2 separate regions of the Homo sapiens genome follow, and region 2 is linked to region 1. Evidence: fine-mapped expression QTL. Tissue or cell type: hypothalamus. Region 1 holds a variant in brackets; the other region holds the start of a gene. All regions are shown on one strand. Distances are from middle to middle. Region 1 overlaps LINC01018 (long intergenic non-protein coding RNA 1018). Region 2 holds the start of NSUN2 (NOP2/Sun RNA methyltransferase 2).

Evidence for each region.
Region 2: NSUN2 starts here. The variant in region 1 is fine-mapped to the expression of NSUN2 in hypothalamus (GTEx, PIP above 0.99).

The regions. Positions count from the first base shown.
Region 1 is chr5:6,586,095-6,591,474 of GRCh38, forward strand. It overlaps LINC01018 (long intergenic non-protein coding RNA 1018), which reads left to right. Exons shown (of 5, transcript NR_024423.2): 5 at 134-2,406. Among named protein-coding and RNA genes, the nearest start is that of LINC01018, 6.6 kb to the left of the region's middle. The variant G/A (reference allele first, on the strand shown) is at 1,960.
Region 2 is chr5:6,630,593-6,635,947 of GRCh38, forward strand. It overlaps NSUN2 (NOP2/Sun RNA methyltransferase 2), which reads right to left and starts at 2,452. Exons shown (of 19, transcript NM_017755.6): 1 at 2,292-2,452; 2 at 2,007-2,164; 3 at 1,281-1,385. The coding sequence starts at 2,387. It overlaps SRD5A1 (steroid 5 alpha-reductase 1), which reads left to right and starts at 2,848. Exons shown (of 5, transcript NM_001047.4): 1 at 2,848-3,277. The coding sequence starts at 2,985. RefSeq lists enhancers at 2,548-3,059, 3,060-3,571 and a silencer at 2,695-3,084.

The sequences.
Region 1 (5,380 bases):
GCTTGCTACCCAGTCCTCCCTGTCCCTCAGATCTGGCCCCAACCCTCAGGCAGACCCGTGTCTTCTCTTCCACCCCCTCCCTCCTCCTCCCTGGCACTCAGCCTTGCTCTTCTACTCTACCCTCCCTCCCCAGGCAGCGCCTCAGCTTGGTTAGCTCCCTTAAGGACTGCGGCTCCCTTAGGACAAGGCTCTGTCCCTCAGAGCACTGAGTGCGATCTCATGCTGGCATCTTAGAGACATTGTATTCACCAGGTAAGATGGATTCACATCTGCTGGGTGCACGAACACTTCCTCCTTCCTTGCCACCAGCCAGCATCACAACCAGCCTGGCCAGGCTCCCGTCCCAGCCCAGCCTAGCAGCTAACCCCAGCTCCATCCCCCAGCAAGCCCCTCTGCCTGCACCTCAGCTTCTTCATGGAAGACGAGTCAGGTCATGATGCCACCAGGGAGCGTGTTTCCATGTTGAACTGAGACACTAAGCCCTTGACAAATGTTGGCCAAGAAAAAAAAGGGGCTCCAAGAGGGGAGCTGTGGCTCAGGTAGAAGACGGTGAATGAGCATTGCCTGAATCAGAGTTAGCTACTCTGGTTACACAGGTGTCCCCGGCAGGTTGGTCAAAAGCCCTTCCCTGAGTCCCGTGATAAGTGTGGGGAGGGAGGCAAATCAAAGACCCCTACACACCTCCTGCATGGATGGCCAGAGCGCTGGTCCCACCTCCTTCCTTCCAAACTGCAACCCCGATCAGCACAGCAGAGAAGTCTCCTGTGGCAGGGACCAGTAATTCAGTGCTTCCCCTGGAGAGTCTGGGATTGCACAGAACACCAGAGGCTGGGGATTTATTTGTTCACCAACATTCATTCAACAAACACTTACTGAGGCCAACACTGGGAATGGAGACGAACTTCCCTGTCCTCATGGAGCTTGCTTTCAAAAGGGAAGGAGGCAGACAGTAAACAAAACAAGCAAGTCAATATACAGCATGATGCAGAAAAGGTGTGATGCCACCCTCTTGCCTGAGTTTATAACAAGCAGATGATGTTGTCCTAAGAATTAATTTCAGCCGGTGAAAGAGTACAGGCAAAAAACGTGGTCTCGGACTTTCCGGTGATGCTTAAGAACATAGTTGCAGTTTTTGTTCTGATTCTTTGTGCATCTCGCGCTAATGAAGGATTCTGCCATGATTGCCACCTCTGGAGACGTCACAGCCAGCACAGCCATGACCAGGGATGAACTTGGCCATTGTCCAGCAGCACCATGGGAGGACCAGCTGCTGTAAGTGAAGGTCATCATCCATCTGATTTGCTGGCTTTTTGCAACTACTGCGGTGGAAGTCTTAGAGTAGCCACCTTCTCTGTACTCAGACCTTCACTTCGCCAGATGTCAGCACAGCAGTGTCAGCAGCTTCGTCAAACACAAACACCACCACCTCTCTGGATCAGAAGCACATGGAAAGCCCACCTTGCAAGAAGACCCAGCTATTCCAAAAGTACCCATATCCCTGTAGCATCCTCTTAGCTGAATGTCTCTACTCCTTAAACTTGTACCACTTTGAAGAGTAAAAATTTAAATTCATTCATATTATCATTTTTTAGTTTTTAGTATAAGTGGAGCTGTTTATCGGCCATTTGTATGTCCTTTTCTTTTTTTTGCAAATTACTCCTTTGCCAAATTTTCTCTCAAATGACTCATCTTTTTCTTATTGATTTGCAGAAGCTATTTACATATTATGGATGTGGGGTGTCTAACATACACAGCAAATACTTTGTCCCAGTGTGTCACTTTTTAAAAAAATTCTTATAATGTCTTTCATCTTTAAAAAATTATTAAGCTATTGTGAGCTTTTATGCCTTTTCAGTTTATTTTCTTACATAGATAATTATATGAAGTGCAAATAGGGGCAGTGTTAGTCTCATCTTCCCAAGGCTGCACCTCAGATGTGGAATGTTGACAGCAACATCT[G/A]TTACCTTGTTTCTGTTTTTAGGATTTTAGCGTTAAGGCCAGGCATAATGGTTCATGCCTGTAATTCCAGCACTTTGGGAGGCCGAGGTGGGCAGATCACTTGAAGCCAGGAGTTCAAGACCAGCCTGGCCAACATGGAGAAACCCTCTCTATTTTTAAATACATTTAAAATGTTAACAATTAAAACAAAATATTTTACCGTTAGTATGATGCTTGATACAGGATTTCTGGTACATACGCCTTATCAAATTAAATAAGTTTCCTTTTACTCTTGTTTATTGTTATTTTTTAAAATAAGGAATGAATCTTGGATTTTAGTGTATCAATAATTATATTTTATTCTTTAACTTCATAATATTCCTTATAATTCCTTATGTCATATTAAAGATGTAAATTCATATATATTTTATCATACAAATGATTAATAAATGTATAAGCATGTCATTATATGAGAGTATACTTCCTTATGTTTCATGAATGCATCGTGACAGGCTCATTTTTTTAATCACTGCTCGATTTGTGCCACTGATGTTTTATGAGGCCTATTTATGTCGGCGATGGTAAGAGTGTTAGTGTTTCCTCTGTGGGTACCTTCATCTACCGTGAGTCTCCTGGATATGCTAGCATCACAGAATGGCAGGCGGAAATTTCCAGCTTTTTCTATAGAATGAGTTTAACACAGAAAATAGATCTTTCTTGAAAATGTGGTAACACTTACCTGGAAACCTCCCTGGCCTAGTGCCTCTTTTCTTGGGGCTAAAGGGTATGAAAATGGGTAGATCTCCAAATGCCTTTTCCATTTTTCTATGAATATTATTCCTACTCAGGCTTTTCTCTTCTTGGAACAATGCTGCTAACTTGTGCCTACTTGGCTATTTCTACTTCATGTATATTTTCAAATCCATTGGTGTGCAAGTGGACTTAGTATGTTCTTGCAAGCGTAAGAGTCTCCATTAGTGTAATGACCTTCTCTCTTTCTGTTTTCCTTGAGCAATTAACATATATTTGTCTTATTTTATTGGTCTTCTCAAAAGAATATGCTTTTGAGTTATTGATCACCTGTACCATGTGTTCTATCACACTATTCTGTGTTTACTCAAGCTCGTTAATTGATATTCAAATCCCTGTATTTTGTCAATTTCTGTTAGATGCTAGTATTAAAAATTTTTTATATAACCGTAGATTTGTCTATTTCTTATTATATTGGTAACAGTTTTTGCTTTACCCAATATTTTGTTCTAATGTGCTTTTTTAAGTTCTTTTTGAATTATTTAGTATTTTTTGTTTATTGTTGTAAGGTGCTTTTTTAAGTTCTTTTTGAATTATTTAGTATTTTTTGGTTATTGTTGTAAGGTGCTTGTTTAAGCTCTTTTTGAATTATTTTGTATTTGTGGTGATTGTTGTAAGGTGCTTGTTTAAGTTCTTTTTGAATTATTTTGCATTTTGGTTATTGTTGTAAGGTGCTTGTTTAAGTTCTTTTTGAATTATTTTGTATTTGTGGTGATTGTTATAAGGTGCTTAAATTCTTCTTGAATTATTTTTTATTTTTGATTATTTCTGTAAGGTGCTTTTTTAAGTTCTTTTTGAATTATTTTGTATTTTTTGGTTATTGTTGTAAGGTGCTTTTATATGTCCTTTTTGAATTATTTTGTATTTGTGGTGATTGTTGTAAGGTGCTTTTTTAAGTTCTTTTTGAATTATTTTGTATTTTTTGGTTATTGTTGTAAGGTGCTTTTATATGTCCTTTTTGAATTATTTTGTATCTGTGGTGATTGTTGTAAGGTGCTTGTTTAAGTTCTTTTTGAATTATTTGGTATTTGTGGTGGTTCTTGTAAGGTGCTTGTTTAAGTTCTTTTTGAATTATTTTGTATCTGTGGTGGTTCTTGTAAGGTGCTTGTTTAAGTTCTTTTTGAATTATTTTGTATTTGTGGTGATTGTTGTAAGGTGCTTAAGTTCTTTTTGAATTATTTTGTGTTTGTGGTGATTGTTGTATGGTGCTTGTTTAAGTTCTTTTTGAATTATTTGCTGTTTGTGGTGATTGTTGGAAGGTGCTTAAGTTCTTTTTGAATTATTTTGTGTTTGTGGTGATTGTCACAAGGTGCTTATTTAAGTTCTTTTTGAATTATTTTGTGTTTGTGGTGATTGTTGCAAGGTGCTTATTTCTTTTTGAATTATTTTGTGTTTGTGGTGATTGTTGTATGGTGCTTGTTTAAGTTCTTTCTGAATTATTTTGTATTTGTGGTGGTGGTTGTAAGGTGCTTAAGTTCTTTTTGAATTATTTTGTGTTTGTGGTGATTGTTGTAAGGTGCTTTAAGATTAAGTGCTGTCATGTGTTCTTGACAGGTTATTCCTTTTATAAATATCAAATGTAGAAAGTTTCCCTGTTCCCCTATTTTCTGTGTCTTGCCATGAACTGTGTTTTTTTGATATATTGACATACCTAATACCTATCATAATTTAAAACACACATACTCCTTGACCAATAAATACGACTCCTAGGAATTTATTCTAACGCACACACGTGTGCAATATTTGAAATGAAAGGTACAGCGTTATCATTGCAGGCTTTGTAGGTAATAACAAAGGATTGGAAGTAATCCACATATGTATTCACAGGGGTCTGGATAAACAAGGGACCCTCTGCCACTCTGGAAAGAATGACCTCCTTATGTACTGATAGGAAATGATCTGTCAGACCTGTGATTAAACAAAAACAAATCCTAGGAACAAAACATTCTGAATAGATGTCAATATTTGTGTAACACGGCTGGGCAAGGTGGCTCATGCCTATATCAGCACTTTGGGAGGCCAATGCAGGCAGATCATTTGAGGTCAGGAGTTTGAGAGCAGACTGGCCAACATGGTGAAACCCCATGTCTATGAAAAATACAAAAATTAGCTGGGTGTGGTGGTGCATACCTGTAATCCCAGTTACTGGGGAGGCTGAGGCAGGATAATCACTTGAACTTGGGAGGTGGAGGTTGCAGTGAGCCAAGATCATGCCACTGCACTCCAGCCTGGGTGACAGAGTGACAACCTGTCTCAAAAAAAAAAAATGTTTAACAGGGGAAAATCATATCTACCTATCTGCACAGAATATCTCGAGGGATGGACAGGAAACTGTTACTGCTGGCTGCCCACAGAGGATGGGGCTGGGCAAGGGGGTGGGAGGGAGCATTTCACAGAGCTGAATCTCTCAAATATTGAACTCAGTGTTTAACTATTCAAAACATAATTAAAATTAAGTATCCACACCTGCATCTTGCATTAGCATTTGCCTACGTATGTCAGTCTTATTTCCATTTTGTGAGCTGTTTTGCATTTTCTGGTTAGTATGTTTTCTTGCTATTTCTATCTTTTTTTTTTTTTTGAAACGGAGTCTCGGTCTGTCGCCCAGGCTGGAGTGTAGTGGTGCGATCTT
Region 2 (5,355 bases), 44 kb after region 1:
GTTTGGCCAGTCAGCATTCATTGTGAATGTATATGCTTATCTGTGATAGGGACAATGAAAATCCAAATAGCCAATGAAAGAAAAACAAGCAAATCTGTACCCCATGATTAATGAAAATCTGACCTTGATTTGCGAACACTAAAGGTTATCCAAAAAGGAAAGATAACACTACGTACTGGAATAGTCAAAACCTCAAAAGTTGATGCAAAACGCTTAATTTGGCAGGGCGCAGTGGCTCACGCCTGTAATCCCAGCACTTTGGGAGGCCGAGGTGGGCGGATCATGAGGTCAGGAGATGAGACCATCCTGGCTAGCAAGGTAAAAACCCGTCTCCACTAAAAATACAAAAAAATTGGCCGGGCGTGGTGGCGGGCACCTGTAGTCCCAGCTACTCGGGAGGCTGAGACAAGAGAATGGCGTGAACCAGGGAGGTGGAGCTTGCAGTGAGCCAAGATGGTGCCACTGCTCTCCAGCCTGGGCGACAGAGTGAGACTCCGTCTCCAAACAAACAAACAGACAAACAAAAAACGGCTTAATTCACCTTTTCGTGCATTACTTTTCTGAGAACTCAATACCTCAAAGTTAATAATAACGACTTTCCCACTTATGTAAGTTAACTGAAGGACTGGCGCCTCCGGAGTTCTCCAAGCATCTTTACAAGATGCTATCAGCACAAGGGATCACCTTCATACAACTGAGACTAGAACCGAGCCATGAGGAATAGGTAACCCAGAAGGCACCTCCAGGACAGGTCAAGAAAGAGGTAGCTCCCAGAGTAGTAGCACGCTTGGGTGCTGAGACTCGGAAATGCTACATTGGCTGGTGCAGTCTGTACTGCGAAGTACCAGGAGACAACCTGACAGCAGACAGTGGTAACCTGTCTGTAATGGAAAACACTAAGAGACTACCTACCAGGAGACTGTTGTCAAGCTAAGTCTGTCCTTTTTCTGAAGGCAAAGCAGCCACTCTGCAACAGTTTTGATGTGAGAAAACAAGGGCTGTAAAAGGGAGCTGGCGGAAGTGGTGACATAAAGGAAGAGGCTGGATGTACTAGGAAGAGCTGGCTGAAATCAGTGACTCATAAAGCTGCAAATCGCAAATCGCATGAAAACTTGCGTAGCAATATAATGTTGATAAAAGCACCAGGTACTAGAACATTAGGATGTTTGCAAAGTATACCCAAGCTCTTTAACAGCAAATGCAGTACCAAGAAATATAATTCAAGTGATAGAGATTAATATCCCAAATAAATATTCGGCATGAAGCACTGTGGTACCTACCAACTCAGTGGCTGTGGAACTTCAACTTTCTGACCGTCCACCTCCAGGTCCTCCAATTCCTTAAAATATTTGTTCTTTAAGCAATGGAGAATCTCTTTTGCGTGGCTATTGAAAAATAAGGAAGTTTCAAACTGATCTAAAAAACTAAGTTAATACATTGTATCTTCTTAAATTTAAGACTGCAAGTGTTTTAAAACTAAAACCAACTTTTGCATGGAGAGTAAACATTCTTTAGTCACTACTTTTACACTGTATGCCTTCAAAATTTAAGCAATCCACACTGTTTGAGCCCTAAGAGCAACACTGCATTCCTTCTCTCCTAAGCATATCCTACCGTTAAGTTTTACTTGCGACTCATTTAGAAAGATGTAACTACAAAGATGGAGGGGGGGCGCGGAGGAGGGGAGAACCAAGGGGTTTTATGCATTCTCTATAAATTCTCTTACGTTCCAAAAGGTAAGACCCTCAGCTTCCCTCCTGGAAGATTCCCCAGGAGCCGAATCTTCCTCAGATCTCATTTTCATTTCGTCTTCTAACCTTGCGCCTGCAATACCTCCGTGACCATTTCATTGGACCCTGTGCTCCCCACCTCAATGCTTCCTGAATCCAAACCGCTGAAACGCCACGGTTCTCTGGCACTGTAACACTTGTCGAAGAAAACACCGTCGCCTTTAACCTCCAGCATCCTGGCCCCAACTCCCAAAAAATCAGGCACTGCCTCCCTACCTTTTGTAACCAGTAATTCTTAAAGTGGCCGGGAGCGGCTCCCTGAGAGCGTCCATGAACTGGCCCCACTCGCCCTCGGGCACGATCTTGAGCTCCTGGTAGTAGTGCTCGAACAGCTTGTTCTCCTTGACGATCTCGGGGTAGCCTCCTTCCCAGCCCTGAGGAAGGAAAGAGACGTCTACCCCGAGGCCCAAGGAGCCGCCCCCTCGCCGCCGCCTCGCAGGCCTCGGGGTCCGGGAAGCCCAGGAGGAGCCCCTGGCCCGCCCGCCGGGTCCCGGCTCCTACCGCCTCGCCGCGCTTTCCACCACCCTCGGCGCCATCCTCCGCGTCCTCCGGCCGCTGCTGTTGCTGGAGCCGCCGACCCCGCGACCGCCGCCCCATAGCCCACGCGGCCGCGCACGCAGCACGCAGAAACCGGCCCGCCACGGCCAGAACTCTAGCCCTACACCTCCCGGGACTTCCGGCCGGAAACCAAGGCCCCACGTGTCCGGGCCTGGTCCTTTCGGGGACCTTTGGGGACCGTCCAGGAATAAGCCCAAAGCGCACAACCCGTCTTTCAGAAAAGCGGCGTGACAGGGAAAACAGCGAACAGCTCTAAGGGGAAAAAAATGCTCCAGGAAGCAGCCACAAAGGCGTCTCCGCGCGAAGCGCCCAGGTTTCCCACGCGGGCTCAAGGAGCTCCGCGGACAGCCTGAAGCCGCGCGTGCGCAGAGCGGCGCGGGGTTACTGCGGCCCCGGCGTGGGTGGGGCGCTTGCAGGTCCCTCCCCGCGCAAGTGCTCGCCCCGCCCCCGGGGCCGCACCCACAGCCCCGGCTACCCCGGAGAAGCCTGACTTGAGAACCCTTTCTGCAGAGTCCCGGCAGTGCGGGACTCCGGTAGCCGCCCCTCCGGTAGCCGCCCCTCCTGCCCCCGCGCCGCCGCCCTATATGTTGCCCGCCGCGGCCTCTGGGGCATGGAGCACGCTGCCCAGCCCTGGCGATGGCAACGGCGACGGGGGTGGCGGAGGAGCGCCTGCTGGCCGCGCTCGCCTACCTGCAGTGCGCCGTGGGCTGCGCGGTCTTCGCGCGCAATCGTCAGACGAACTCAGTGTACGGCCGCCACGCGCTGCCCAGCCACAGGCTCCGAGTGCCGGCGCGGGCCGCCTGGGTGGTGCAGGAGCTGCCCTCGCTGGCCCTGCCGCTCTACCAGTACGCCAGCGAGTCCGCCCCGCGTCTCCGCAGCGCGCCCAACTGCATCCTCCTGGCCATGTTCCTCGTCCACTACGGGCATCGGTAACGTCCCCGGCCCCCGGCCCCCTACCCTACTCCCGGCCCGGCGTCCTCTCCGACCCTCCCCTCACTGCCCGGTGCCCTCTCCCCGAAGCCTCCCCCACCCAGATGCCCTCTCCCTGCCAGATCCCCCGGGGCGTCCCCCATCTGCACGGGTGCCCTTCCCCGAGTCCCCCGGCCCCGGGAGTTTGGAAACCAGAAGGGATTCGTCTGGAAAGGGCGGGAAACAAAGGACTGGAAGGGAGTGATGGAAAAAAACATGATGAAACTGATCTGGAAAGAGCCACTCAGTGGTCCTAGGTTTGGTTTCCTTAGCCGGGCGCGGTGGCGCCTGTCTGTGATCCCAGTTACTCGGGAGTCTGAGATGGAAGAATCGCTTGAACCCGAGAGGCGGAGGTTACAGTGAGCCGAGATCTCGCCACTGCCCTCCAGCCTGGGTGACAGAGCGAGACTCTGTCTCAAAATTAAATATATAAAAATAAAGAGTTAAAAAGTAAAAATGTAAAATAAAAATGAAGACTAGATTTTGTTCCCTTAGATCACGACTGTGGGGGCGGGGGGGAGGGGGTTGGCCTAGAGTCTAATGCTGATGGTCGGTCTTGAGGGCCACTGGTTTCTACTCCTTTCTGCCGGTTCCCCTTTTGGTATCTTTGGTGATGGTGGAGCTGTTTTCTCCCAGCCAAGTGATCAGCTGCAACTGGAAACCTGCTGTCCTAAAACTGCCTAGCAGTTTCTCCTTATAGGCTTGATCACTTTCAGAGACTTTCATGTCCACCTTATGCAAGGGACCCCAGGATTGTGGGGGTGGAAAGCCAGCAACCTTAAACCTTAAACAAACGAAGTCTTAAAGATGACTTCTAAATCTTTCAAGGTTTTTGTTTTTTTGAATATTTGAAAACTGGCTGTGTCTGAAATCTTCAAGCCTTCTAATAAGTTGGGGTTCTCTCCAGGTCGTATCTTTTGGCTTTTACACAGCCAAAGCAAACGACAGGTCGAAAGTTCAAAATTAAATTTTAAACGTTTTCATTCAGGCTCTGGAAAGCTTCACAGTTAAAAAGGATGTCTCTACACCCAAGGAAGTTGAACTCACTGGCTGTGTGACTATGGGCAGTTTACCCAACCTTTCTGATTTGGGGTCCCACCTTAAAACACTCACTTCCCAGAGAGACAGGAAGAACTCAGTGTGTGTTTATAAGCCTCTCTTCTTTCTCCTGGTGTCATGCATTCCAGCGAAGAGAAAGTACACAGCTCCACTACTTGGAACCAGTGTTGTACCCAGCACAGTTTTTGGTACCTGAGTTCCCTGAAAACCAGCACCTTACCCTGTAACTGGTGCAGTCTGTGTCCTCAGTGTGCTTTGATGACTTGCACTTTAAACAAGGGCAAGTCAACATTCATCAGAGGCTTAGTGAGTACTGTGTGCCTGAAACTCTTTACCATTGCTTTATTTTTTTTTTGGAATGGGATCAACCATTGCTACAATTTGAATATTAGTCAGACTTTGCTGTTTGTATATACTTTTCCATAAATATACCAGAAGCTGTATGTCTGTTTCTTTATGGCTAAAAGCAATCTCAGGTCAGAGTATTCGGTGCTATCCTAGTCCCATCAGTCATGACCCTGGATGAGTTACTAAGCTGCCCCGCAGCAAGGTTTCCCCACCTGTAGAATGGGCATGGTGATGGAACCCCCCTGTGGGATCACATGAATTTAGAGCAAAGGCAACTCCCTAAAATGCTTGCATGGTGCTGGCGCATCTGCGTGCTCAGTACACAATACCTAGCACTATTTTGCATTGCTGTGAATGCACATCCAGACATGTACTCTGTGTGTCATTCATGTGCACTGCTGCCAGCCTCATGTGCCAGCAAAACTGTGGTGTTGGAAATCAAGGGAACACTTGACAAAGTTTTGCCTGACATCCCAAGTGGAAGCTTTTTAACTTGAGACATCATGTTTCATTGTACCTACATTCACTCAAGCAGAAAAATGAATGCAGCCTCCCAAAGGGCCAGAGTCACCTTGAATGATAGAACTTGAACAGCTCATTCATACAGAGTAGAACACGGAGGCACAGCATG